Homo sapiens: one gene and its partners. The protein of the gene in region 1 purifies or fractionates together with the protein of each later gene. This does not show direct contact. Each region holds a gene or a part of one and is shown in the gene's direction. Other genes may lie near its edges.

Region 1 (7,103 bases):
AAAGAAGTGTTTTGAAAAACCATGCTTTTCAAATATTTTGATTGCCTGACTTATTGCATGTATAATGAATAACTCATCTCCATTAACCCACTTAAATTAAGGGGTTTAATGAACCCCTTAAACTGCCAGTTAGAACTTCTGATTCATTTAAGGTAACCACTGTTAAGAATTAAAATAAGTGGGCTGGGTGCGGTGGCTCACACCTGTAATCCCAGCACTTTCGGAGGCCGAGGCGGGTGGATCACGAGGTCAGGAGATGGAGACCATCCTGGCCAACATGGTGAAACCCTGTCTCTACTAAAATACAAAAATTAGCCAGGCGTGGTGGCGGGCACCTGTAATCCCAGCTACTTGGGAGGCTGAGGCAGGTGAATCACTTGAACCTGGGAGGCAGAGGTTGCAGTGAGCTGAGATCGAGCCACTGCACTCCAGCTTGGTGACAGAGCAAGGTTCCGTCAAAAAATAAAATAAAATAAAATAAGTGAGAGACAATATAAATCTTTAAAATATGCTTTGTCTTTGACCTAGCAATTCCACTTCTGGGAATTTACTGCAAGGAAATGATAAAGAATGTGTGCAAAGACTTAGTGATAAGCTAATCACGATATTGAAAAATTGGTAATGGCTTACATATCTAATAATAAAATATAGTTGAATAAATTAGGGTATGTCCCAAAATACTCAGTAGTCATTAGAAGTAGGCTAATATTGAGAGGTGACAGCGTGCTGGCAGCCCTTGCAGCCCTGGCTCCCTCTCGGCGCCCCCTCGGCCTTGGTGCCCACTCTGGCCACGCTTGAGGAGCCCTTCAGCCTGCTGCTGCACTGTGGGAGTCCCTTTCTGGGCTGGCCAAGGCTGGAGCCGGCTCCCTCTGCTTGCGGGGAGGTGTGGAGGGAGAGGCGCGGGTGGGAACTGGGGCTTCGTGCAGCGCTTGCGGGCCAGCTAGAGTTCCGGGTGGGCGTGGGCTTGGTGGGCCCTGCACTCGCAGCGGCTGGCCGGCCCCACTTGCCCCGGGCAGTGAGGGGCTTAGCACCCAGGCCAGCAGCTGCAGAGGGTGCGCCAGGTCCCCCAGCAGTGCTGGCCCACTGGCGCCCAAGGGCTGAGGAGTGCGGGCACACAGCGGGACTGGCGGGCAGCTCCGCCTGCCGCCCCAGCGCAGGATCCACTGGGTGAAGCCAGCTGGGCTCCTGAGTCTAGTGGGGACTTGGAGAACCTTTGTGTCTAGCTAAGGGATTGTGAGTGCACCAATCAGCACTCTGTGTCTTGCTCAAGGCTTGTGAACACACCAATCAGCACCCTGTGTCTAGCTCAGGGTTTGTGGATGCACCAATTGGCACTCTGTATCTAGCTAATGTGGCGGGGACTTGGGGAATCTTTATGTCTAGCTAAGGGATTGTGAATACACCAATCGGCACTCTGTATCTAGCTCAAGGTTTGTAAACACACCAATCAGCACCCTGTGTGTAGCTCAGGGTTTGTGGATGCACCAATCGGCACTCTTTATCTAGCTAATCTGGTGGGGACTTGGAGAATCTTTATGTCTAGCTAAGGGATTGTGAATGCACCAATCGGCACTCTGTGTCTAGCTCAAGGTTTGTAAATGCACCAATTAGCACTCTGTGTCTAGCTAATCTGGTGGGGAATTGGAGAATCTTTACGTCTAGCTAAGGGATTGTGAATGCACCAATCGTCACTCTGTATCTAGCTCAAGGTTTGTAAATGCACCAATCAGCACTCTGTGTCTAGCTCAGAGTTTGAAAATACACCAATCGACACTCTGTATCTAGCTAATCTAGCGGGGACTTGGAGAACTTTTGTGTCTAGCTCAGCCATTGTAAACGCACCAATCAGCACCCTGTCAAAATGGACCAATCAGCTCTCTGTAAAACAGACCAATCAGCTCTCTGTAAAATGGACCAATCAGCAGAATGTGGGTGGGGCCAGATAATAAAAGCAGGCTGCCTGAGCCAGCAGTGGCAACCCGCTTGGGTCCCGTTCCACAGCGTGGAAGCTTTGTTCTTTCACTCTTTGCAATAAATCTTGCTGCTGCTCACTCTTTGGGTCCACACTGCCTTTATGAGCTGTAACACAGCGAAGGTTTGCAGCTTCACTCCTGAAGCCAGTGAGACCACAAACCCACCAGGAGGAATGAACAACTCCAGACGCGCTGCCTTAAGAGCTGTAACGCTCACCGCAAAGGTCTGCAGCTTCACTCCTGATCTAGCGAGACCACGAACCCACCAGAAGGAAGAAAGTCCGAACACATCCAAACGTCAGAAGGAACAAACTCCGGACACGCCGCCTTTAAGAACTGTAACACTCACTGCGAGGGTCCGCAGCTTCATTCTTGAAGTCAGTGAGACCAAGAACCCACCAATTCTGGACACAATATGAATATGGAAAGTTGCTCATGAGATAGTTTTAAGTGAAAAAAATCAAGTTAGCAAAATAAGTGTGGTCCAATTTCTGGTTATATTCCTTAGCTGGAATATAAACACTGCTAGTGTGGGCTGTCCATTGTTGACATCGCTCCCTCCACCTCCCGTGTGTTCGCATTAATTTATATGCGTTGTGGCTTTTGTTCTAGCTGAGAGGAGAAGAGGTATAGTTGGTACAAGAGATGAGGAGGAATGTGGAGAAATATGGTGAGTGCAGTAAGGAATCTATTTCCTGCCTCACTTCTCATACTGGGTTGAGCCCCTAGGCTTTGTGAATGACAGCTGGAAAGGATGGAAGTGTTTCATTTTTTAAAAATAAAAATATGATATTGTAATTTTGGACAAAGGAGTAGGGAACAAAGCCCAAGAAAGTTCAGGAAAGAATTGTGAGATTTTGTGCATATGGAGCAGTAACTCCTAGACCAGATGTCAAAGACTGCCATGAAGCTGGAGAGGAGACAATTCTCCCCATCTGTGTGGTGGAGGCTGCTCAATGTCCCCCAATTTCGCTTCATCTCATCTTGCTTATTAATACAATTTCAGTTAGGCACTCAGCTGACAGGACTATGTTTCACAGATCCCCTTGCAGCTAGGTGTGGCTTTGTAATCAGATGGAATGAGGGGATATGATTGTAGAAACTGGAGCAGCCATCTTGAATGAAAGATGCAAGGCAAGCTCTGATGATGGCAGAGTCACGAGATAAAAGGAGCCTGGGACCCTGTCACAGGACAGAGCTGCCAGCAATACCGTCTCTATAACAAACACTAAATTTAATTATTCATATCTAAATCTGAACATAGGCAGTAATTTCTAACCAGTGTTTAGCCCAGCACAAGGCCTGGGTGGTAGACTTCCAATAAATGTAGAATTAAGTTTATTCACACTATATAGACTTATTGCAAGGCAAGAATGAGACCTTAGACTTTCGTGCTCAATCTTGAAGACAATGTTTTTCAACCCTTTTCAACAGATTCTCTCTCAAAACCTAAAATCTCATCCACCATCCCACTCTCTTTTTACCAGGGAGATGTGTTTCTCAACTAAAGAAATAGAAGAAAGTGTGTTCTCTACGTATTGTCAGTTAGCTAATTAGAGCAGAATGCTGGTGATGCCAAAATCTGTAGCCCCATCCCTTATATGGCATTTGAGAGGAGCGAGTATAAAGCAGTAGATAATACCAAAGGTTTTGGCCTCAGGGCCGCAGTTATCTCTCCTTTGTGAGACCTTGGGGGCACTGTTTAACCTCTCTGGGTCTCATCCAAGAAATGGAAATACTAATAATACTCCATATGGTTGTTGCAAGGATGAAATGAGATGTCTGTAGGAAGTGCCGAGGAATGCCTAGCACAACCAAGAGCTTGTTGAACTTGTCACGCTTTACTGTCGATAATGTGCATTAAGCAAACGCTAGTTTTATTTGTTTATTTCATCTTCTAAGTATAAGAATACATTGTAGCTCGACATTTTGGCACCAGCCCCTAAAGCATTCCCACCACCACCCCCGCTGCGACAAAGCCCTGCGCTCCTTACGACAGCGTACGACGCCGAGCCTGACAGGAACGCCTCGTGCGGTAGAACCGCGCGGGCCAATCGCGCTGCTCCCGGGTGATGACGTAGGCTGCGCCTGTGCATGCGCAGGGAGGGGAGACCTTGGCGGAGCGGCGGAGGCGCCCAGCGGAGGTGAAAGTATTGGCGGAAAGGAAAATACAGCGGAAAAATGCAGAGCTGGAGTCGTGTGTACTGCTCCTTGGCCAAGGTGAGGGCCGAGTAGGTGAGGTCGTGTTGAGCCAGAGGCACGGAAGGTCCCGCTCAGTGGGTCCGGTACGCGGCTTAACCGTGTTGGGCTGGCGGAGGCGGGCGCCTGGGCCGCACCACCCCTGGCCCCGCCTCTGCACTGGCTCAGCCCGGCCCTGGGCTCCGAGGTGGCCGCTCATCCTGCAGCAGGCGAGGGACGGGGCTGGGCCCAGGCTGTGGCGAGTCCTTTCGGGTTGTGTGACGGCCGGCGGTCACACATGCCACACCCCCAAGCCTGGGCCGAGGGCCATCCCGGTCACACATAGGCCTCTACCTTGGAGGAAGTGTAAGCCACCCATGTCCCGTATAGTCTGGCTTTTTATACCATTTGCCTTTTTCTCATCCTAATTCTGATCCCTGAGTGGCCTAAGTTTATGCAGTGGGCAGGTAACCCTGGGGTCACTTCTTGAATGGTTTAGATCCAGTCAGCTCCAACAGATAGCCCTCGGAATTCCCCTAAGGTCTTGTCAGTGTTGGCAGCTTTCAACTGGTGTTCATTGCCATCTCTCACGACTTCCTGGAGGCTTAAATCTTTAATTGCAGCAGGTTATCAGAACAACTCTCCTTTTTAATCTGCTTACCAGATACAGCCAAATTGTGTGTATGTGGCACCGTGGCTGGGTACTATGTTAGTGGAGACCTTAAAAATAATATAGCGATCAAACCCTTTTGTTTCAGAGATGAGGAACCTGAGTTCTCAAAAGTTAATGTAACATTCTGCAAGTCATGCTTTTAGGGAGCGGCGGAGGTGGGACTGAAACTCAGGATTGTCAATCTGCTGCTTTTTGGGTTTGCTGTCCTGACCTCAAATGTTAAGAGTTGCCTTGGAATAGGAAACATCAGTGTAGGTTTTGTCACTGCCGCCCATTTTCCTGCTGTGAGCAGGGGTTATTTGCTTGCTTGCTTTCTGCCTCATTGCCCTTAGGAAATGGTAGCCGTCCACATATAGAGATTAGGGAGATTATGATGCAATTTGTCAAACTGTAGTAGCACCAGAACGTAAGTACATTACTTGGTGCATTTTCCTAAGTTACCTTGTCTAATTTGCTATTCCTAGTTGATGTCTCAGGAACATCTTCATAGATTGTTCTAAGTAAATACGGACTGTATATACACGCTAGCTTAGAGTTAGGAAACAAAAATTACAGGTAAAAAGATTATCATGTATAGATTATTCAAGTATTTAAGTTAGAACTTTCAGAGCTTTATTTATTTATTTATTTATTTATTTATTTTGAGACGGAGTCTCACTCTGACATCCAGGCTAGAGTGCAATGGCACTATCTCAGCTGACTGCAACTTCCGCCTCCCGGGTTCAAGTGATTCTCCTGCCTTGGCCTCCCGAGTAGCTGGGATTACAGGCACCCACCACTACACCCGGCTAATTTTCTTGTATTTTTAGTAGAGTCGGGGCTTCACTATGTTGGCCAGGCTGGTCTCGAACTCCTGACCTCAGGTGATCCGCCCACCTCAGCCTCCCAAAGTGTTGGCATTACAGGCGTGAGCCACCACGGCCGGCTCAGAGCTTTATGACATTAAAATGATCCCTGGCACTAATAATTAGCCATGTTTTCTGAAAATTGAATAAAAATACCATTGAATACGTTTTTAAAATTAAGTTAAATATGAGATGATTTGTTGACTATTGATAATAAAAAGATGGGTGTGGCAAGCTGAGGCTGAAAAATTTAAATGATTAGTTATTGTCAAAGAGGGGATATTGATCTGTAGCTTCTGTGTGGCAATGGAAGAAGATACACTAATAATCCTCGCTTGATACGTTTGCCCAAAATTGTTCTGTTATCATCAACCTTCAGTAGTTCTATGTTTTGAATTCATATCTTACATAATAGGGACATTTTCTTTTTCTAGAGAGGCCATTTCAATCGAATATCTCATGGCCTACAGGGACTTTCTGCAGTGCCTCTGAGAACTTACGCAGATCAGCCGAGTAAGTACTTAAGTAAAACATTTTTTTCATCACATTAGCTGACAGTTCCTTTCTATTTCAATGTAAAAGCAAGTGAATATTGGAATAACTTATGTTAAGTGTCTTATAGTTCATTTGTTCATGTATTTATTCGTTTGAATGTATATTGAGCTAGTGTGTTCCAGGCGGTGAACAAGGTAAAAAAACCCTGCTCTTATGAAACTTGTAATTTGGTGATAAAAGACAAACAATATATAAGTAATGGATAAATATTTTGGGAAGTAACTGAAAATTAAAGCAGGTAATAGGGAGGAAGAGAGATAATTTTAGATACAGTGTCAGGAAAGGCCTTTCTGAGGAGATGATGTCTGGGCAGGGTCCTGAGTGAAGTGGGGGAGTGAGGTTACTTCAGGCAGAGGGAAACAACACTGAGAAAGGCCTGAGGTGGGACTTAGCTTGTGAAGTTTAAGGAGTAATAAGAAGGCTGGTATGACTGGAGCAGAAACCCATGCAATGTAAAGTCGGAGAGGTAGGCAGGAGACAGATCATGGAGTGCCTTGTAAGGCAGGTCTAGTAGTTTGGATTATACTCCAAGTATGATGGGAAACAAAGGTTTTGAGCAGGGCAGCAATTTCATATGTTTACATTTAAAAAGTTAATTTTGTCCGTTGAGTAAGGTTGTATTGGTTATTTTAACACTGTTTAGAATGATGAGATGACTTTCTTGACATCCTGAATGAAAGTCTTCATGGGTTTATCAAAAGCATGTTTTAAAGATTAGCAGGATCTAAAAGGAAGCTATGGGTCATGGAATTTTCTCCTGTGTACTTTTTTTATATTTTTGAAGTTCCCATAAAGGATATGCATTTTATTTTTTTAAGTATTTAAAACAGAAAGTTAATAGGATTATATTGAAGTATTTTGACCTGTCAGTACCAAGGA
Region 2 (7,023 bases), on another chromosome or scaffold:
TATGCTTTTACTGCTGTTTCTTCTTTTCCTTAACGTTTTTTATTTAGAAAAATTTCATGCTTACAGAAAAGTTGAAGTAATATTTTGATCCCTTTGGAAAGAAATATTTTGTTTTATCTACTTTTCTCTCTTTCTGTTTTTTGTAACAAATTTTGTTTCCCAGGGGTTGGTGCCATCTACATCCGTCGCCGGCCCCGTGTGCGTGTGGAGGCCCTGCAGAGTGGAGGGGGGCAGGAGCGGGGTATGCGGTCTGGGACAGTGCCCACACCCTTAGTGGTGGGGCTGGGGGCTGCGTGTGAGGTGGCACAGCAAGAGATGGAGGTATGGGGAGAGCAGTTCCCTCCCACAACTTCTTCCCCTGTGCTGGGTCTCCTATTTAGAGGCTTCTCAGCATGACTGAGGCAGATCTCTGCAGGGAGAGAGGGCTTAAGAAAACTCTTCCTTGTCCTGGTGCTGCTGGCACCTTGTTCTGAGGGAGACATTATGGGCTTCAAAACCCATGGCCTTTTAGTAGTTATCAGCTCATTTATTTCTGGATAAGTAAATGAACCCTGTGTCCAGTTATCAAGCGCCTTTTGCATACCAGGCACTATGCTCAGTACTGGAGATACAGTGGTCCCCATGAGTACATAGGATGATAGGTGGGGCTGATACATAGTCACTTCCAGTTATAGGAGAAGGGCTTCTCAAACTGTCTTTCTGAGCTGGTTAATGGTTACTGCCTAATCCTTCCTTGCCTGCTCCTTAGTATGACCACAAGCGAATCTCAAAGTTGTCAGAGCGGCTGATACAGAATATAATGAAGAGCCTTCCAGATGTGGTGATGAATGGGGACCCTAAGCACCATTATCCCGGTATGGACTTGCTCTTTCTATCCTCATTCTGGTAGAGGCTGAGACTCTGAGACCTCTCTCACAGTATTTCTTTCCTCCAGGCTGTATCAACCTCTCCTTTGCATATGTGGAAGGGGAAAGTCTGCTGATGGCACTGAAGGACGTTGCCTTATCCTCAGGGAGGTGAGCTGGACGGCATAGACAGGGCCTGCGGCAGGGCCACTTAGAAGAGTCATACAGGCTATTAAACTTCCCAGTGTGGAGATGATAGGCACAAGACCTCTTGATTAAGGGTAAAGGTCATTTTGTAAGTGCCTCTCTTTTTTTGGTTGGCTGGGTAGCTGGGTACAGACTGAAGTTTACCACCCTAGGAAGACTTCCTGGGGTAGAATTTTGTGCCTTTTATCGTCCCAGGGGATGTATGTGTCTGTTGTGGGTTACACTAGCAGTTCTGTTACAGGCCTCTAGAATTGAAGATGCTCCAAAGGCCACTAAGTGTTTGGCTGCCCTTCAGGCTGGTGCAGATGGTGCATTACGTCCTGGGGAAGTGAGCACATGGTCCTCTGCTGCGTCTTCTTGTCAAACCCATGTGGTATCATGCTCTGTCACACTTTGCCAGCGTCCTTGCTTAAGGAAGTCATCCACCATGGGGGCCAGAGGAGCTAGGTTCACACATCCTAGGATGTGCAGGGGAGCATCAGGTCCTTTAGTTCTGCCAGATTAGAAGGTCTCTTGTTTTCTCCAGGGTATGACTCCAGGGCCCTGGGGGATGGGAACAAGACTGAGGGTTTGTGACTAAAAGTAGACGTTGATGATGAACTGAACAAGGTTCGTGTCTCTCTCCTCAGTGCCTGCACCTCTGCATCCCTGGAGCCCTCTTATGTGCTTAGAGCAATTGGCACTGATGAGGATTTAGCGCACTCTTCTATCAGGTCAGTGAGTTGAGCTGCAACATTTATGAAAGGCATCCTCTTATATTTTTCATCTCCTGTTACAGTTTTTTTCTTTTTCCACCCTGAAGTTTTTCTCAGTCGAGTTCTCCTTATCTCTTCTCATAACCTTGTGAAAGTTTCTAGAGCAGTGGTTCTCAGACTTCATTGAGTATCACCTGGGAAGTTTGTGAAATATGATATCTGAGTCCCACATTCAGATATTCTGATTCACTAGGTCCGGAGGAGGAGTAGAAAACATCTCAGGTGATTTTAATGTTGGTGGTCCGTAGATCATGTTCTTTTTTTTTTTTCTGAGACAGAGTCTTACTCTGTCGCCCAGGCTGGAGTGCAGTGGCATGATCTCAGCTCACTGAAGCCTCTGACTTGCAGGTTCAAGCAATTCTCCTGCCTCAGCCTCCTGAGTAGCTGGGATTACAGACATGTGCCACCAGGCCCAGCTAATTTTTATATTTTTAGTAGAGACGGGGTTTCACCATGTTGGCCAGGCTGGTCTCGAACTCCCAACCTCATGTGATCTGTCCACCTTGGCCTCCCAAACTGTTGGAATTACAGGCGTGAGCCACCATGCCCGGCCGATCCATATACCATGTTCTGAGAAACTCTGCCTAAAGGGGAAGGACCATGTTCTTCTCTCCATATCTTTTGTGTCGTAGATCCTTAGTGAGTATTTGCGGAATGAATTTATCCCAGTGCCAGAGCTCTGATGGGGAGCCATTCTCCTGTGCCTTTTTTCAGGTTTGGAATTGGCCGCTTCACTACAGAGGAGGAAGTGGACTACACAGTGGAGAAATGCATTCAGCATGTGAAGCGTCTTCGAGAAATGAGGTATACATATTGTATCAGAGACGCTTTGGAAGAAACTCTAGCACTGTCTCCCCTCTTGTCCTTAGGCTATGTGTTTACACTGCCAAAACCAAAGTTCAAGCGTACTTGGATCTTAGGATTTAGAGATTCCACAAAGCAAGAAAGTAGATCTTCTTGGCTACTTGTCTTCACAATGAGAAAGTGTTTTTAAAAACTAAAGAACTAGGCCGGGCAGGGTGGCCCATGCCTGTAATCCTAGCACTTTGGGAAGCCGAGGCGGACAGATCACCTGAGGTCAGAAGTTCGAGACCAGCCTGACCAACATGGAGAAACCCCGTCTCTACTAAAATACAAAAAAATTAGCCGGGAGTGGTGGCGCATCCCTATAATCCCAGCTACTTGGGAGACTGAGGCAGGAGAATCACTTCAACCTGGGAGGGGGAGGTTGCGTTGAGCCAAGATTGTACCATTGCATTGCAGCCTGAGCAACAAGAGCCAAACTCCGTCCCAAAAAAAAAAGCCGGGCACAGTGGCTCACACCTGTAATCCCAGCACTCTGGGAGGCTGAGGTGGGTGGATCACAAGGTCAGGAGATCGAGACCATCCTGGCTAACACGTTGAAACCCCGTCTCTCCTAAAAATACAAAAAAATTAGCTGGGCGTGGTGGCGGGCACCTGTAGTCCCAGCTACTCGGGAGGTGAGGCAGGAGAATGGCGTGAACCTGGGAGGTGGAGCTTGCAGTGAGCCGAGATCACACCACTGCACTCCAGCCTGGGTGACAGAGTGAGACTCCGTCTCAAGAAAACAAAAACAAAAACAAAAACAACAAACTAAAGAACTAGATGAATGCAGGTAATGCAGGTAGTAGTTTTTTTTTTTTTTTTGGAGACAAGTTCTTGCTCTGTTATTCAGGCTGGAGTGCAGTGGCACAATCACACCTCACTGCAACTTGTGCCTCCCAAGCTCAAGTGATCCTCCCACCTCAGCCTCCCAAGTAGCTGGTACTACAGGCATGTGCCACTATGCCTGGTTAGTTTTTGTATTTTTTGTAGAGACGGAGTTTTGCTATGTTGCCCAGGCTGGTCTCAAACTCCCGGGCTCAAGCAGTCCTCCTGTCTTGGCCTCCCAAAGTGCTGGGATTACAGGCACAAGCCACCGCACCTGGCCCAGGTAGTATTGTTCATTATGATTATTATTATCTTTAGAGAAAGTGTCTCATTCTGTCACCCAGGCTGGAGTGCAGTGGCACAGTTGTAGTTCACTGTAACTTTGGACTCTTGGGCTCAAGTTATCCTCCTGCTTCAGACTCCCAAGTAGCTAGGACTACAGCTGTGTGCCCCCACACCTAGCTAATTTTAAAAATATATTTTCTGTGGCTGGGCACGGTGGCTCACGCCTGTAATCCCAGCACTTCGGGAGGCCGAGGTGAGCGGATCATGAGGTCAGGAGATCAAGACCATCCTGGCTAACACAATGAAACCCCGTCTCTACTAAGAATACAAAAAAATTAGCCTGGCATGGTGGGCACCTGTAGTCCCAGTTACTTGGGAGGCTGAGGCAGGAGAATGGCGTGAACCCAGGAGGCAGAGCTTGCAGTGAGCTGAGATCGCACCACTGCTCTCCAGCCTGGGCGACAGAGCAAGACTCTGTCTCAATCAATCAATCAATGTGTTTATAAAGGTAATGAGATCCTTGGCCAGTCAGCTGGCACCAGGGCTTCCCCTAGTAGCCACAGAGCTCATCTTCCTCCTGGAACCTTGAGGCCTCTAGATTTTTTCAGAGCCTGGCTCTGTCTTGGTTAACCTTGACTTTCAGGATTCTCTTGATCTAGTTGGTAGAGAGAGGAATTTCAGGTATATACTCTGCTTCCCTTTATGAGCTCTCCCAGGCCTTTCTGTGTTCTGGATTTTTCTTTGTAGGGTCTAGCTGTATTGCTTAAGTGTCTATAGCTTGCTCAACTGCAGGACCCTTCCTTTGTCCTCACTTTCTGGTATTCTGTGGTATACTCACAAGGCATTTCTACTGACCACGTGGCCAGCAAAGCCTTTTGTTTCCTATCTATGTGGCTTCGGCATCTGCACCCTATTCCTTCTGACCCTTTACAAACTGAATGCAGCCTGGTCCTATTAGCTCTCAGAGTCTTATTTTGTGAGCCTATAATAATAAGTGGTCTTCCCTAAAGAGGAAGGACAGGAAGGAGATGGCTAACTTTAAGGGCCATGGAAAATCTCATGAATAGAAAGGCATTCTGGGAATGTTTAGTATATAGAAGAGGGACAAGTCAAGAATATAATGAAATTTGATAAAATTACCTGGTGAAATCTAAACTGTAAAATCCCATATTCATAGCACACTGAAGTAATATCTGGTCTGGGAACATTATCCAAGATATCCAAGCTTCTGCTTGGGGATCGATCAGAGCTTAGCAGAGATTTCTTAGCAGCAGCTCTTGTGTGAGATGGGATGCTCAGGTCTAAGATCCAAGGAATTCTTTTGGATTAGACCCAGGGATATTGGAAGCACAGGCCAACTCTGGGGAGATGAAACGGGCAAGAACTGGGTAAGGGTACAGCATACCAAGATGATGTAGGGTTAAGTTCCACCCCTAACTGGGAACTAGAACAAAACCAAGAAACAAATGCTGAAAAGCGGGTAATATGTGGTGGGCTGAAACGAGCTGCTTATACATGTCATATGAAGAGAGGCTTAAACTAGATGTTTATACAAGTCTCAAGGGTCTTGGTTCCTCCAAGGGAAACCATGGCCATAGCCTCTTACCAGTGGGATGAAAGCTTCAAGAATATGACCATGTTTGGTGTCCATTGGCTCAGGGCCCCACTGCAATTGAGCCTGAGGAACCTAGTTATTCCTGTTAGCAGTTGGGGAGAGCTCTCAGGAGAGCTGACAAGGACTTACAGGGAGCTGGAGAGCTCAGGATACCTTAACCACCTGTGTTAGGGTCTACCAGGGCAAGAGGCAGAGGACAGACAGGGACAGAAGGAGGCAAGCCATTGCTCAGAGCCTTGGGGCCAATGTTGTCGACTTCCTATCTAAGCCCTCACTCATTTAATGCCTCTTCTCTTTGGCAGCCCTCTCTGGGAGATGGTTCAGGATGGCATTGACCTCAAGAGCATCAAGTGGACCCAACACTAGAAGAATAGGGCCCTGACTTTGTGCTGGTCTGGCCCCTCCTGCCTCACCAACCCGTGCACAACCAGACACCTTGTTACACCTAGTGGATGCTCTAGATTGGTATAGACCAGTTGACTTCAGCATCAGTCCACCTCTATGACAGAAACACAAGAAAACTGTCTTTCCCTAGCTTCAGTTCCTTGGGTGTGGAGCACTCCCCATTTCTTCTCGGGTCTTAAAGTGTGTGGACATTTTCATCCCGAAGCCATAGAGACATTTGCTGTCATATTGCTGCTGGGCACATCTGTGCTCTTGGTGAGGAGAGCAAGAGGAACCAGAAGAAGTCTCTTTGGTCAGGGACCATGATGCTCTACATGGACATTTGAGTCTTCGTCTTCTGCTGCTGCTCGGCTGGACCAGCTTCTTTAACAGCAAGCATAATCCACTTCAATGTAATATTTTCTGTAGCTCCAAAGGCTATCTCTTCATATTGACTGCAGACAGACTGAATGGACAGTTTCTTAGAGGGCTTGTCTCCTTTCTACCCTTGTCCTCTTTCCTTTCCTTTGACCTAATGGAGCTAGAAATATGTCTGTGACTCCACCAGTTATTCTAATAATTTGTTTTCTTGAAAATTGTTAATTTCAAGACTGGAGAAATAAACTCACCTTCTATTTACTCTGTGACTTTATGAGAGGTTGAGGGAAAAGTGGAAGCTGTACTTGGGAATTGTGGAGAAGACCGCCACTCCATCTGATTTGCATAAATGACTCAGTGGGCTTTTGTATCTCTTCATTTAAGAATTATTTGAATGCCTGCCAGGAGCCAGATTTGTTCTGGGTATTAGGAATACACTGGTTAACAGGACCAAAAAAGACCCTGCCCTCACTGAGTTTTAAATTTTAGTGGAGAGATGGAAAATAATTAAACAAATAAACAATGTTATAGATTGTGATAAGTGCTATGAAAGAATTAAGTGGTAAGAGGACATAGCAGGGAAAACCTACCATGCTGGGTGTTTGAGGAAAGTTTTTCTGAGGAGGTAGTGCTTATAAATATGAAGAGCTCGCTAATCTAGAAATGAGAGGTGAGAAGGAATGGCAAGAGCTAAGGGCCTGAAGTGTGATAAAGCACAAAGTATTATACTTTAGAAACCAAGAGAAGGCCATTGTAACTAGAGCTTTTCATTTGTGGGTCTGAACCCATAGGTGGGTAGTTACCAGTACTTAAAAAAGGAGATAGTATGTTAGAGTACATTTATGCATATTTTAAGAATATATTTTGATGATATATTTGAATT
Region 3 (7,719 bases), on another chromosome or scaffold:
ATGGTGGTATGTGCCTGTAGTCCCAGCTGCTCAGGAGGCTGGGGCAGAAGAACTGCTTGAACTGGGGAGTTTGAGGCTGCAATGAGCTATAATGGTGCCAGTGTGCTCCAGCCTGGGTGACAGAGACCCTGTCTCAAAACAAAAACAAAAACTGGGTGCGGTGGCTCACGCCTATAATCCCAGCACTTTTGGGAGGCTGAGGCAGGCAGATCATGAGGTCTGGAGATTGAGACCATCCTGGCTAATACGGTGAAACCTTGTCTGTACTAAAAATACAAAAAATTAGCTGGGTGTGGTGGCGGGCGCCTGTAGTACCAGCTACTCCAGAGGCTGAGGCAGGAGAATGGCGTGAATCCGGGAGGCGGAGCTTGCAGTGAGCCGAGATCGTGCCACTGCACTCCAGCCTGGGTGACAGCGAGACTCCATCTCAAAAAACCTCAGTGGTAGTTGTCTGCTATCTAAGGCTAACAATAAAAGGCTGTTACAGAGCTGTATGGCAGGGCCACCCCTGTATGGAGGGCAGACTCCAGACCTGTAGAGCCATCAGCATGCAATACTTGCCTGAGAGAGCCCAGGTACCTCTCTTCAACTGCTGAGAGCTGCTGGGTTGGAACTGTGCCCATCAAAACCATGGGGTAGGGCTGCCCCGGGGCTTTGGGGGTCCAACCCCCAGCCCAATGCATCCTGAAGGCAAGATACTGAGTCAAGAATTATTCTCAAGCTTCAAGAGTTAATGTTGTTGGCCTTTTGGGTTTTTAACTTACTTGGGACCTATTACTCCTTTCTTCTTGCCTATTTCTCCCTCTTGGAATGGGAATGTCAGTCCTGTTCCTGACCCATCATTGTGTTTTGGAAGCACATGTATTTGATTTCACAGGCTCACAGCTGCAGGAGAAGTTGCCTCAGGATGAGTCATGGCCTTGAGTCTCATCCATATCTGATTTAGGTGAGACTCTGGACTTTATAGTTTTGAGTTGGTGCTGGAATGAGTTGAGACTTTTGGGGCTACTGGGATGGATAAATGTATTTTTGGGTTTTTTTTGTTTGTCTTTTGAGACAGTGTTTCCCTTTGTCCCCCAGGCTGAAGTGCAGTGGTACGATCTTGGCTCACTGTGAACAACTTCCGCCTCCCAGGTTCAAGCAATTCTCATGCCTCGGCTTCCAAGTAGCTGGGATTATAGGCATACACCACCACGCTCAGCTAATTTTTTTTATTTTTAGTAGAGACAGGGTTTCACCGTGTTGGCCAGGCTGGCCTGGAATTCGTGACCTCAAGTGATCCGTCTGCCTCAGCCTCCCAAAGTGCTGGGATTACAGGTGTGAGCAACAAGCGTCCGATAAATGTATTTTGCATGTGAGTAGGACATAAATTTGGGGGGCCAAAGGCGGTAAGCTATGGTCTGACTGTGTCCTTCAAAATTCATCTATTGAAAATTGCTAATGTGACAATACGAAAAGGTATTGGAAATGATTAAATCATGAGTACAGAACCATCATGGATGAGATTAAGGCCCTTAAAAAAAGGTTTGAGGGCCAGGCACAATGGCTCACACCTGTAATCCCAGCATTTTGGGCGGCCAAAGTGGGCCGATCACCTGAGGTCAGGAGTTCAAAGCCAGCCTGTCCAACATGGCAAAACCCCATCTCTACTAAAAATACAAAAATTAGCTGGGTGTGGTAGAGGGCGCCTGTAATCCCAGCTACTTGGGAGGCTGCAACAGGAGAATCGCTTGAACCCAGGAGATGGAGGTTGCAGTGAGCCGAGATTGTGCCACTGCACTCCAGCCTGGGTGACAGAACAAGACTGTCTCAAAAAAAAAAAAAAAAAAAGTTTGAGGGAATGGGTTCCTTCTCTTCTGCCCTTCTGCCATGTGAGCACACAGTGTTAAACCCCTCGGATGAAGCAGTGTTCAAAGCACCATCTTGGAAGAAAAGACTGAGCCCTCACAAAACACCGAAACTGCTGGTACTTTGATCTTAGACTTTTGAGCCTCCTGAACATGAGAAATAAATTTCTGTGGTTATAAATTACCCATACTAAGGTATTTTGTTACAGTAGCACACATGGACTAACAGAGGAGCTAATCAACATTTATAGAATACTCCACCAAACAACAGCAGAACACTCTTTTCAAGTGCTTACAGAACATAAACAACATAGACCATATCCTGGATGACAAAATATCAACAAATATAAAAGAATTGAAATTATACAGACTGTGTTCTGACTACAAGGGAATCAAATGAGGAATCAGTAACAGTCAGATAACAGGAAAATTTCCAAATACTTGGAAACTGAACACACTTTTAAATGAGGCATAGGTCAAAGGAGTCTCAAATGAAAATTTTCTAAAAAGCATTGAACTGGGCCAGGTGCGGTGGCTCACACCTGTAATCCCAGCACTTTGGGAGGCCAAGGTGGGCGGATCACCTGAGGTCAGGAGTTTGAGATCATTCTGGCCAACACGGAGAAACCCTGTCTCTACTAAAAATACAAAAATTAGCTGGGCGTGGTGGTGGGCACCTGTAATCCCAGCCACTCAGGAGGATGAGGCAGGAGAATCAGTTGAACCCAGGAGGCAGAGGTTGCATTGAGCTGAGATCATGCCACTGCATCCAGCCTGGGTGTCACAGCGAGACTCTGTCTCAAAAAAAAAAAAAAATTATCGGCTGGGCACGGTGGCTCACACCTGTAATCCCAGCACTTTGGGAGGCTGAGGCGGGCAGATCACGAGGTCAGGAGATGGAGACTATCCTGGCTAACACAGTGAAACCCTGTCTCTACTAAAAATACAAAAAAAATTAGCCTGGTGTGGTGGCGGGTGCCTGTAGTCCCAGCTACCTGGGAGGCTGAGGTGGGAGAATGGTGTGAACCAGGGAGGCGGAGCTTGCAGTGAGCCGAGTTGGCACCACTGCACTCCAGCCTGGGTGACAGAGCAAGACTCTGTCTCAAAAAAAAAAAGAATTACCACAGATGAATGGATAAGCAAAATGTGGTATACACATATAATGGGATTTTTTCAGCCTTAAAAAAGAAATTCTGACACATTCTACAACATGAATGAACTCTGAAGACATGCTAAGTGAAACAAGCTAATTACAAAAGGACAAATACTGTTATGGCTCCACGTACATTAAGTACCCACAGTAGTCAAATTCATAGACAGAAAGTAAAATGATAGTTGTCAGAGGCTGAGGGAAGGAGGAATAAGTTTTTGTTTAATGGGTACAGTTTCTGAAGATGGTAACAATTGCCCAACAATGTGAATGTACTTAATGTGACTGAACTGCACATTTGAAAATAATTAAAATGGGGCCAGGCGCAGTGGCTCACGCCTGTAATACCAGCACTTAGGGAGGCTGAGGTGGGTGGATCACTTGAGGCCAGGAGTTGGAGATTAGTCTGGCCAATATGGTGAAACTCTGTCTCTACCAAAAATACAAAAATTAGCCAGGCGTGGTGGCGGGCGTCTGTAATCCCAGCTACTGGGGAGGCTGAGGCTGGAGAATTGCTTGAATCCAGGAGGCAAAGGTTGCAGTGACCTGAGATCACGCCACAGCACTCCAGGCTGGGCAACAGAGCGAGACTCCGTCTCAAAAAAAAAAAAAAAAACCACAAAAACAAAACAAAACAAAACGGGTTAATGGCCTCTCTGTAGTCACTGAATCCCAATAGACCATACCTGGGTTCAGTAATTTATATTTCTAAAAAGATCCCAAGACTTAGAAATCACTGATGTATATCATCAAACACATTGGTCAAGCTTACAATACTATATATAACCTAAGCATTATCACAGAACGTAATGTAACTTTTTTTTTTTTTGAGACGGAGTCTCCCTCTGTCGCTCAGGCCGGAGTGCAGTGGCACACTCTCGGCTTACTGCAACCTCTGCCTTCTGGGTTCAAGCAATTCTCCTGCCTCACCTCCTGAGTAGCTGGGACTACAGGCGCCCGCCACCACGCCCGGCTAATTTTTGTATTTTTAGTAGAGACAGGGTTTTACAATGTTGGCCAGTCTGGTGTCGAACTCCTGACCTCAAGTGATCCGCCCGCCTCAGCCTCCCAAAGTGCTGGCATTACAGGCGTGAGCCATAGCGCCCCGCCCGTAATGTAATTTTGGGGGAAAGATATGAGTGGCTTACATTTCAAATATTTCTGAATTTTTGAGTTATCTCAACTTGAAGCAAAGGCCCAGCAGTTCGATATCAGGAGTAATAAACGGTAAAGAAAACAGAAACAAATTACAATCAAGCAATGCCAATCAGCAAGAGAGTGTGACATGGCCCTTTTTAAGCCAGAGTAAACTCTTGTGAGCTTGCCACTAACTCCCATTTTAACGAAATTATTCATTTTAGGAAACCGCAAGGTTTTTTTTTTGTTTTTCTTTAATTTTTTTAATCTTTGCAAGAGCTGTCAGATAAGAAGGTTGTATTATTTATTTGGTTCCAGATAAAATTTTGAACTATATCGAAATTATAGACTGGCTTTCTGGAAAGGAAATGGTCCTAGACAATTTATAGGCTAATGAGCAGAGACCCACCTTAACAAAATTTTGTCCCCAAAACGAAACAATAGAACACACGTGGGTGGATCCTAGTAGGGAGAAGGGGTGGGCGGGGTCAGGCACAGGGGGCGGAGCCAGCCCCACGGCGGAGGAGAGCCCAGTCCGGTCTCCGCCTCCGTGACGTCCCGGGAAGCACCGCCCACAGCTGCCCGGGACTCCAGTGATCGCCGCGGCTCGCTCGCGCCCCGGAAACTGCCCCTTCTCGGGGGTCATGATGGGCAGCAAGATGGCGTCTGCTAGTAGGGTCGTTCAGGTAAAGCAATTTGTCGCGTTTCCGCATCTTGGGCGGTAGGGACGGTGCTGACTATGGCGACGGCGTCGGGGAGTAAAGGCGGTGGCAGAGGCAGAGCGGTGACCGCGCCTCTGCGGAGGGCCAGTGACGGCGCCCGCGGGTGTGTGTGAGGATGGGACTTTGAGCCTGTTGGACCGGGCAGTGAGGTGGGTCCGGCGCCGAGGGTTCGAGCCTTGCGGCAACCGTGCAGCATCTTGGCAGGTAGGTCCTGTACCTACTGCCGGGATCCCCCGCTCCTCCGCCAGGACCTTGTTAGTCTTAGGCGTGTGCGGGTGAGGCGACCCTGGCGGTAGCCTGGCCAATCGCCGTCTAGGATTGGCTGTGGTGCCCCCGATCAGCCAATCGGAAGGAAGGCGGTAGCGGGGCGTGGAAGGAAGCGAACCCTGGATCTGACCCACTGTCCCTTCAAGGTCTCGGGAATGGTCGGGCAACTGGCCCCGCGTACTGCGTCCTCGCCGGAGCGGGTTCTCCCCAACCTCTCCAAGCGTCTGGCTACAGGCCAGATGAGGGAAATAGAAAAGTAAACTTAAGTTTAATTAGTATGTGTGTGTGTATATTAATGTGTGTGTGTGTGTGTGTGTGTGTGTGTATAAGCGTTGGTTTCACAAGCCTATTTTCCCCTGGTTTAGATAGACAGCTAAAGTAACTTTGTTAATCCACCTATCAGCTACTAACTCCTGATAGCCTTTTTATTTGTTTCTTCAGCTGTGGTTCTAACTTAGGTAAAATTATTATATAAGTGGAACACAACCTCCACTTTTGTGGTTGGTTTACATAGTCTTTGAACCCTGAAACTATATTATTTTATAATTGACTTTTATCTTTGATATGAGAAGTACATTCCGCTTTATATAAGTACATCTCTTAAAAGACCTTTTTCTAAATTCCTGAAATTGTTGTCTGAATGATAATCCTAGATCCCAGTCTTTGGTCCCATTGCAATGAATGATCCTTACTTATTCAGTAGGTAGTTACTGAGCATCAACTAGTTAAAGATTCTGTAAGGACTGAGAGACTGACAAAGGTCTGTTATCCATAATATATAACCATATGTATCAATAATATATAACAATTTAAAAATGGGTAAAAGACTTGGCGTGTTGCACAAAAGATACCCAAATGAGCAATGAACATTTTAAAAGGTGCTCAATATCATTACTTGCCAGGAAAATAAAAATTAAAACCATGAGGTCCTACACATCCACCAAAATGACTAAAATTTAGACGTCAGTGGTGATGAGAATGTGAAGCGTCTGAAACCCTCAATATTGCTGGTGGGAATATAAAATGTTATAGCCACTTTGGAAAGCTGTCAGTCTCTAATAGTTAAGCATGTATCTACCGTATGACCCAGCAATTCTACTCATAGGTTTATTGCCCAAGAGAAGTGAATGCACATACTGTCTCTGTACGTAAATGTTCACAGAAAAAAAAGAGTTACTAGCAAAGAACTGGGGTCCAGAGCTGAGGGGTTCCAGCCTGGCAGCAGGAGTGTGGCATCTCAGCAGGCAGGTACTATATATACTGCCATGGGGTCCCTGGCTCTATTTCTGATAGCCCCCAAACCACAAACAATCTCTATGTCTGTCTTTTGCATAAACAAATTGTGGTAGTTTGTTAAAATAGTACAGTCCAAAGCAATACTAACAGCTGATGTGTGCAAACAAATGAAGAAACTGTGAGATATACAGTAAGGAATGGTCTGTGCCCTTCTAACATAGGAACAAAGACCTGTACTCACCTATTTAGAATTCAAATCAGGTTCGTGATTGCGCTCTTAAAAAAAAAGAAAAAAAGAGAGAATACAACCAATATGCTAATATAATATCACTTGAGCCTAGGAGTTTGACGCTGCAGTGAACCACAATCACCCCACTGCACCCCAGCCTGTGTAACAGAGCAAGACCTGGTCTCGAAAAATAAATAATAAAGTATGTGCTAATATTATGTAATAATTACATATAACATTAGCAAAATTTGTTGAGTATCTCTGTGACAGGCCTATAAAGCTAGGACTACAGTGCCAGTTAGAGTTTAGGCCAGGCTCACTGATGTATGCCTGTAATCCCAACACTTTGGTAGTTTGAGGCAGGAGGATGGCTTGAGCCCAGGAGTTCAAGACCAGCCTGGGCAAAATAGCAAGACCCCATCTCTATAAAAATTTTAAAAAATTAGCTGAGCATGGTGATGTGCACCTGTGGTCCCAGCTACTCAGGAGGCTGAGGTGGGAAGATTGAGCCTGGGTGATCAAGGCTACAGTGAGCCATAATCATGCCACTGCATTCCAGCCTGGACAGTAGAGCTAGACCCTGACTCAAAAAAAAAAAACAAAAAAACATAGAGCTTAGAATTTGGTTGTTGATCCATATCTTGAAGGAAGAGAAGAGTGCCAAAAGACTGATTGGTACAAACTGATAGGAAGTCACAAAGCGTGGTCTCAGAACATTAAGTAAAGACAAAGCCAGCTGGGCACGGTGGCTCACACCTGTACTCCCAACACTTTGGAAAGCCAAGGTGGGAAGATTGCTTGAGCCAGGAGTTCAAGATTAGCCTAGGCAACATAGCAAGACCCCATCTCTATAAAAATTAGCCAGGCAGCCGCCCCGTCTGGGAAGTGAGGAGCGCCTCTGCCCGGCCGCCCCGTCTGGGATGTGAGGAGCGCCTCTGCCCGGCCGCCACCCCGTCTGGGAAGTGAGGAGCGCCTCTGCCTGGCCGCAGTGCAATCTTCCAAGTGTGAAGTGACAGCCTTTCTGCAGGTGTACCCAACAGCTCTGAAGAGACAGCAACCATCGAGAACGGGCCATGATGACGATGGCGGTTTTGTCGAAAAGAAAAGGGGGAAATGTGGGGAAAAGAAAGA
Region 4 (7,040 bases), on another chromosome or scaffold:
TCCTCATTCCAGTTTCCAAAGCGAGAGGAGCCTTCTGAGCAGAAGTATGCAAGACTGATTCTGTTTGGAACAGTTTCCTATTTGGCTGCATTCTAGGAGGCCTCCTGACTTATTCATAGTATTGTCGCCTGGTGGCATTGGTGTGGGGTAGCTTGTCCTGCTACTTGCTAAAGTTCTCTTTCTTTGAGAAAACTGAGGAACCAGAATGCTTAGAGTTCATAAAATAATCTCTAAACCATGTTAGGTTAAAACAAAATGACCATCTCACAAAAACGAGTTTAGTTGAATGCTCAATTCCTTACAAAATCTTCATTTAAGGCTGAGTGTGGTGGCTCATGCCTGTAATTCCAGCACTTTGGGAGGCCGAGGCAGGAAGACTGCTTGAGCCCAGGAGTTCAAGACCAGCCTGGGCAACGTAGGAAGACTCCGTCTCTACATAGAAATTTTATTATAAAAGTAGCTGGGGATGGTGGCACACACCTGTAGTCCCAGCTACTCAGGAGGTTGAGGTGGGAAGATTGCTTGAGCCCAGGAGTTTGAGGTTGCAGTGAGCTGATCATGCCACTGCACTCTAGCCTAGGCTACAGAGCAGGACCCCATCTCCAAAAAAAAAAAAAAAAAAGTCATTTAAAAACTGAAGAATGTTCTCTTCTTGCTCAGTTCCCTAAATTAGCTGGGGGGATTGGGATACTTTACAATTTTTACATTTTTAAATTTGAAGAATTTGTTTTAAACTTACTTGGTAATGGCACTTCTACTTACTGACCAACTTTTCAGCTCTTTTTGACCAGGATGGTTGCAAATTAGGGAAAATATCTTTATACTATACATCCAATTCAAGAGGACTTTAATTACTTAAAAGCATTTAGGTCATAATTAAAATTATTTTCACTGTTTCCATAAAATAAGCATTATGATTGCACACTCCTTCTACTGTCTGAATTTATGTAAGAGGTATAGCTTGCTTAAAATACATATATATGTAAAGTTATATTTTCTTAGAAACATGGATGTTTACAGCCATTGCTTTCAAAGAGATTATTACTGTGTATTCTCCCTGTTTTACAATATGTTTTCATGAAGACTATGTTACACCAGAGGCTTCTGATTATCAAAGTGATAACCAGTTTTAACTGCCGGTATGTACCAGATTTGTGAACTAATTTAAAAAACCACAAACTATGAATAAAATGGGGTTTGCAAACTAAATATCATTAATGATTTTCACTTGCGTTTACTGATGAGATTAATCAATAAAGCCATTTACATTTAGTGAAAGCAAATTTCCTCAAGTGATCTCCCTGGTAGCATGTTTACTCACTATGTGGAGTGGAGATAAGAATTACTTTATTGCTACAGATATTTTACAATTAGTATTTCTATGTAAGCACATAGGCTATTATCAAGGACAATTTATTTAGCACTTATTTTGAAATTATATGTAAACATGCAAACAAATAAGAACCCAAGAGTATAAACTCTATGACAAAAGTCAGTATGCAAGCATTAAGAACTCTTTCAGAAATGTGTATTTAAAATGACCAGAATTCCCAGATCATTTGAAAGCTGCCTCTTAAATGCCTCTTATCAATTCATCTTAAATGTTTGCTATATTAAATTCTTTATCCCTGAGTGCCTTCATTTGACTTCCAATTACGTATTTTCAACTATTAATTGGCTATCCCATTATGTTAAAATTAAATATGTACATAACTCAAAATCTTTCACTACCAACTAATTTCTGTTTCTCTCAATATCAGTGATATCACCATTCTCTTAAGTATCTCTATTTCAAACCTTTGAGTCTTGAGTCTCCTTTTCCATAATTTCCTTTATCCAGTCTGTTTAGTGGAATTCAAGCTTGTTCTCTCAGGACTGATTTGAGAAACCTAAGCATTCCTAGCCCACCTCTGGGGTAAGCTCGCCATCTCTGGACTGTTTGAGCTATGCATTCCTATAATTTAACTACACTTAAGTCAAAAGTATATTCAAGACACAAACTCGCTATTCTTTGAAAAATGCAAAACAGGGTTTAAGCAAGCATACCTAAGTGCACAACAGATCCGGAAGATCACCTCATACTTTATACCAAAGTCTAATTTAGATCCAGTTATTAAGTTCAAATGCAGCAAAAGCAGCAAGATATTTTAGCCAACTCAAAAACATTTTTATAATAATTTATAAGTCCTGGGCGGGCATGGTGGCTCGCGCCTGTAATCTCAGCACTTTGGGAGGCCGAGGCAGGTGGATCACCTGAAGTCAGGAGTTTGAGACCAGCATGACTAACATGGTGAAACCCCGTATCTACTAAAAACACAAAATTAGCTGGGCATGGTGGCACGTGCCTGTAATCCCAGCACTCGGGAGGCTGAGGCAGGAGAATCGCTTGAACCTGGGAGGTGGAGGTTGCAGTGAGCCGGGATCATGCCACTGCACTCCAGCCTGGGCGACAGAGTGAGACTCCATCCCCAAATAATAGTAATAAGTCCTTTCAGTAATTACAATTATTCTTTCATTGCTTCTTCCAATTGTTAATTCATAAGTTGTACATAATTGTAACAATATAATTGCTCTCTTCATATTATTTAAAATATGCCTTTTCATTCAATCTAGAAATTTTATATTTCTCAATTATATTGCTTACATATTATTCTGATAGACAGCTGTACCTGCTTAAACATTCCAATTTAAGTAGGCATGAAATAGTACATCCAATCTGTTTTAGTTTTCCAAATTAATTGTTAGCAAGATTAGCCCCCATTTTTTTTTTTTTTTAACAGATGGGAGTCTCATTATGTTGCCCAGGCTGGTCTCAAACTCTTGGGCTCAAGTGATTCCCCCACCTCAGCCTCTCAAGCATTGCTGGGACTACAGGCATGCACCACCGCTCCTGGCTAAAATCTTGTTTTAAGTTTCTTCCCTCCAACTTCCTCTTGCGTTCTTGGTGTTCTCTAACCATCTCTACAGGGGGGAGGTGGTGATACACAGCACATGCTTCCTCCTTATCTAATGTCACCTTCAGTTCAGAAACGATATGTTTTCTAATTAAAAGACAACTTTACAAGAGAAGCGTGCCTAACAAAATGTGTAGATGACTTTTTATTCATTGATTCAAAAGACATACATTCAGCCCCCGCTATTTACTGGATATTAAGCTCTGGGGCTACATGGAAGGACCACGCAGACACTCTTCATGCCTTCAACGGCTTACAGTTAAGTTTTTCAAACATTTGAAACATAACGAAGCTTTTGGTTACTTAAAAGAATTCTATGGTATTAGGGAGCAACACCTGTTTTGTAAACCTATATCTTCATACAGGGAATATGCTTAATCTTGCTACAGTATACATGAATGCGGGAATGTATCTTCCTCTGGGCTGCCTTTCGTTACCACTTGGCTGGGTGGAACACCTGTTCACTCCACTTTCCACTTGGGCTACAAACCTGAAACGAAATCTTTGCAACCAGTACAGCCTGCGCGGGGCGCGGCCCAGTCCATCCCCCTTCGGATGCGCAGAAGCAGAGGTCACCACGCCGGACCCCTCGATTCCCTCGCGGGCGATTCCTGGCTCCTTCACCACCCCAGCACTCCAAGACCCCCGCCCTTTGGCCTGAGGCTCCCACTGCCCTAGCCAGTTCCCGGGCTCACTTCCAGCTTTTCCAGAAAGCTTGGCCACGCCCCTCGGCCCAGACTCTCAGGCCACTCGGCCGCAATTAACCCGCGTCTCTGCGCCTTTTTAGGCCCCTCCCCCTCGGTCGTGCCCTTGTCATCTCTTAGGCCCCGTCTCACCCTTTCGGATGCCTCCCCTAGAACCCTACCACTTTCCACCCCTTTCCGTCTGTTATTTCTCCCAAACTTGCGCCCGCACAGGCCCCTCTGGAACACTCCTGCCCCGTAGTGCCCCTCGTCCCCGCTCCGTAGAGAAAGAGCGTGCGTGCCGCGCATTTCTGGCCTGGGGAGCGGGTGGAGTAAACCTGCGGGAACCATTTTACGACAACGTGCGGCTGTGCGGTGTGGCTGACGGCAACGCCGCTGCTCTTGGAGAGGTCACTCCGGAGACGGCGTTGGTTTTGGGGTGTGGGGGGTTGGTGGCACTATGTGGCGCGTCTGTGCGCGACGGGCTCAGAATGTAGCCCCATGGGCGGGACTCGAGGCTCGGTGGACGGCCTTGCAGGAGGTACCCGGAACTCCACGAGTGACCTCGCGATCTGGCCCGGCTCCCGCTCGTCGCAACAGCGTGACTACAGGGTATGGCGGGGTCCGGGCACTGTGCGGCTGGACCCCCAGTTCTGGGGCCACGCCGCGGAACCGCTTACTGCTGCAGCTTTTGGGGTCGCCCGGCCGCCGCTATTACAGTCTTCCCCCGCATCAGAAGGTGAGCCCTAGACCCCCCTTCTCGGGACCCCGTTGTCCTTCAGAGCTGACTGGATGCCTGCAAGATCCTCCTTGAGAGGCCTCACTGATCCTCCACCCATTCCCAGTATCTGCTTTGGCCCTTTGTCCAATAGTTGGCTTTGCTGTAGCTCCTTAGTGTCCCTCTCATGATCTATTTCATTGAAAGGAGAGCTTCAAGACTGGGGCTGTATGCAGAATATCTGCCGAGGTTCATGCTTTGTCAGACCCACAGGACTGTGGAGGAGAAAGCCTGTCACTGGAAATTACTAACTTCTCATGGACAGGAACTCCCTTGGCATCCCTAGTTCCCAATGTGCAATGGAACTGTATACACTTTGCATGAAATTGAATTGAATGAAATCTTAAGCCAGACTGAGAGTTAGGTAGTCCTTAAAAATTTTAATGTTTCTTCTTTTCCTTTTCCAGGTTCCATTGCCTTCTCTTTCCCCCACAATGCAGGCAGGCACCATAGCCCGTTGGGAAAAAAAAGAGGGGGACAAAATCAATGAAGGTGACCTAATTGCAGAGGTAAGTTTTTTTTTTTTTTTTTAATTAATTTATTTATTTTTTTTATTGATCATTCTTGGGTGTTTCTCGCAGAGGGGGATTTGGCAGGGTCATAGGACAATAGTGGAGGGAAGGTCAGCAGATAAACAAGTGAACAAAGGTCTCTGGTTTTCCTAGGCAGAGGATCCTGCGGCCTTCCGCAGTGTTTGTGTCCCTGGGTACTTGAGATTAGGGAGTGGTGATGACTCTTAAGGAGCATGCTGCCTTCAAGCATCTGTTTAACAAAGCACATCTTGCACTGCCCTTAATCCATTTAACCCTGAGTGGACACAGCACATGTTTCAGAGAGCACAGGGTTGGGGGTAAGGTCACAGATCAACAGGATAAGAATTTTTCTTAGTACCGAGCAAAATGAAAAGTCTCCCATGTCTACCTCTTTCTACACAGACACGGCAACCATCCGATTTCTCAATCTTTTCCCCACCTTTCCCCCCTTTCTATTCCACAAAACCGCCATTGTCATCATGGCCCGTTCTCAATGAGCTGTTGGGTACACCTCCCAGACAGGGTGGTGGCCGGGCAGAGGGGCTCCTCACTTCCCAGTAGGGGCGGCTGGGCAGAGGCGCCCCTCACCTCCCGGGCGGGGCAGCTGGCCAGGCGGGGGCTGACCCCCCCACTTCCCTCCCGGACGGGGCGGCTGGCTGGGCGGGGGGCTGGCCCCACCACCTCCCTCCCAGACGGGGCGGCTGGCCTGGCGGGGGCTGACCCCCACCTCCCTCCCGGACGGGGTGGCTGCCGGGCGGAGACGCTCCTCACTTCCCAGACGGGGTGGCTGCCGGGCGGAGGGGCTCCTCACTTCTCAGACGGGGTGGCTGCCGGGCGGAGGGGCTCCTCACTTCTCAGACGGGGCGGTTGCCAGGCGGAGGGTCTCTTCACTTCTCAGACGGGGCGGCCGGGAAGAGACGCTCCTCACCTCCCGGACGGGGTCGCGGCCGGGTAGAGGCGCTCCTCACATCCCAGACGGGGCGGCGGGGCAGAGGCGCTCCCCACATCTCAGACGATGGGCGGCCGGGCAGAGGCGCTCCTCACTTCCTAGATGGGATGGCAGCCGGGCAGAGACGCTCCTCACTTTCCAGACTGGGCAGCCAGGCAGTGGGGCTCCTCACGTCCCAGACGATGGGCGGCCAGGCAGAGACGCTCCTCACTTCCCAGACGGGGTGGCAGCCGGGCAGAGGCTGCAATCTCGGCACTTTGGGAGGCCAAGGCAGGCGGCTGGGAGGTGGAGGTTGTAGCGAGCCGAGATCACGCCACTGCACTCCAGCCTGGGCACCATTGAGCACTGAGTGAACCAGACTCCGTCTGCAATCCCGGCACCTCGGGAGGCCAAGGCTGGCGGATCACTCGCGGTTAGGAGCTGGAGACCAGCCCGGCCAACACAGCGAAACCCCGTCTCCACCAAAAAAATACGAAAACCAGTCAGGCGTGGCGGCGCGTGCCTGCAATCGCAGGCACTCAGCAGGCTGAGGCAGGAGAATCAGGCAGGGAGGTTGCAGTGAGCCGAGAAGGCAGCAGTACAGTCCAGCTTCGGCTCAGCATCAGAGGGAGACCGTGGAAAGAGAGGGAGAGGGAGACCGTGGGGAGAGGGAGAGGGAGACGGAGAGGGAGAGGGAGAGGGTAAGTTGTTTTAAAGTAACGGAGATGAGTTCGAAGAGACTGGCTTTGCCTAATTGACTGAACATTGACTTTCTGGATGTGTAGCTACCCCTTTGTTTAAGAAACTGAAGTGTTTTTCACAACTTGATGTTAGACAAGATTGGTTGGATAAGTTGTCAGCAGCTGGCCAAACTGATTTTAACCAAGGCGTTTCTAAAGTAATTTCTTCTTTGAAATCTGTCGTAGTGGCCTTATCTTCACATGAACTGTATAATTCTAGACACAAAGGCCAGGCTGGCCAACATGGTGAAACCCCGTCTCTGCTAAAAATACAAAAATCAGCCGGGCATGGCAGCCTGTTCCTGTAATCCCAGCTACTCGGGAGGCTGAGGCAGGATAATCGCTTGAACCTGGGAGGGGGAGGTTGCAATGAGCCGAGATTGCACCACTGCACTCCAGCCTTGGTGACAGAATGAGACTCTGT

Evidence for each region.
Region 2: the proteins of DLD (region 1) and NFS1 purify together in Homo sapiens (affinity purification with mass spectrometry; 3 studies listed by BioGRID and IntAct, with this or other methods). This does not show direct contact.
Region 3: the proteins of DLD (region 1) and KGD4 purify together in Homo sapiens (affinity purification with mass spectrometry; 4 studies listed by BioGRID and IntAct, with this or other methods). This does not show direct contact.
Region 4: the proteins of DLD (region 1) and DLAT purify together in Homo sapiens (affinity purification with mass spectrometry; 6 studies listed by BioGRID and IntAct, with this or other methods). This does not show direct contact.

Annotation. Positions count from the first base shown.
Region 1 is NC_000007.14:107,887,097-107,894,199, forward strand, and holds the start of DLD (dihydrolipoyl dehydrogenase, mitochondrial isoform 1 precursor), read left to right. Parts: upstream 1-4,086; 5' UTR 4,087-4,154; coding exon 4,155-4,193; intron 4,194-6,103; coding exon 6,104-6,182; intron 6,183-7,103. UniProt on the Homo sapiens protein: Lipoamide dehydrogenase is a component of the glycine cleavage system as well as an E3 component of three alpha-ketoacid dehydrogenase complexes (pyruvate-, alpha-ketoglutarate-, and branched-chain amino acid-dehydrogenase complex).
Region 2 is NC_000020.11:35,668,343-35,675,365, reverse strand, and holds part of NFS1 (cysteine desulfurase isoform a precursor), read left to right. Parts: intron 1-163; coding exon 164-321; intron 322-748; coding exon 749-854; intron 855-934; coding exon 935-1,016; intron 1,017-1,681; coding exon 1,682-1,765; intron 1,766-2,521; coding exon 2,522-2,611; intron 2,612-5,680; coding exon 5,681-5,744; 3' UTR 5,745-7,023.
Region 3 is NC_000005.10:69,213,052-69,220,770, forward strand, and holds the start of KGD4 (alpha-ketoglutarate dehydrogenase component 4), read left to right. Parts: upstream 1-4,708; 5' UTR 4,709-4,778; coding exon 4,779-4,820; intron 4,821-7,719. UniProt on the Homo sapiens protein: Molecular adapter that is necessary to form a stable 2-oxoglutarate dehydrogenase enzyme complex (OGDHC). Enables the specific recruitment of E3 subunit to E2 subunit in the 2-oxoglutarate dehydrogenase complex (OGDHC).
Region 4 is NC_000011.10:112,021,376-112,028,415, forward strand, and holds the start of DLAT (dihydrolipoyllysine-residue acetyltransferase component of pyruvate dehydrogenase complex, mitochondrial isoform 2 precursor), read left to right. Parts: upstream 1-4,032; 5' UTR 4,033-4,097; coding exon 4,098-4,376; intron 4,377-4,822; coding exon 4,823-4,924; intron 4,925-7,040.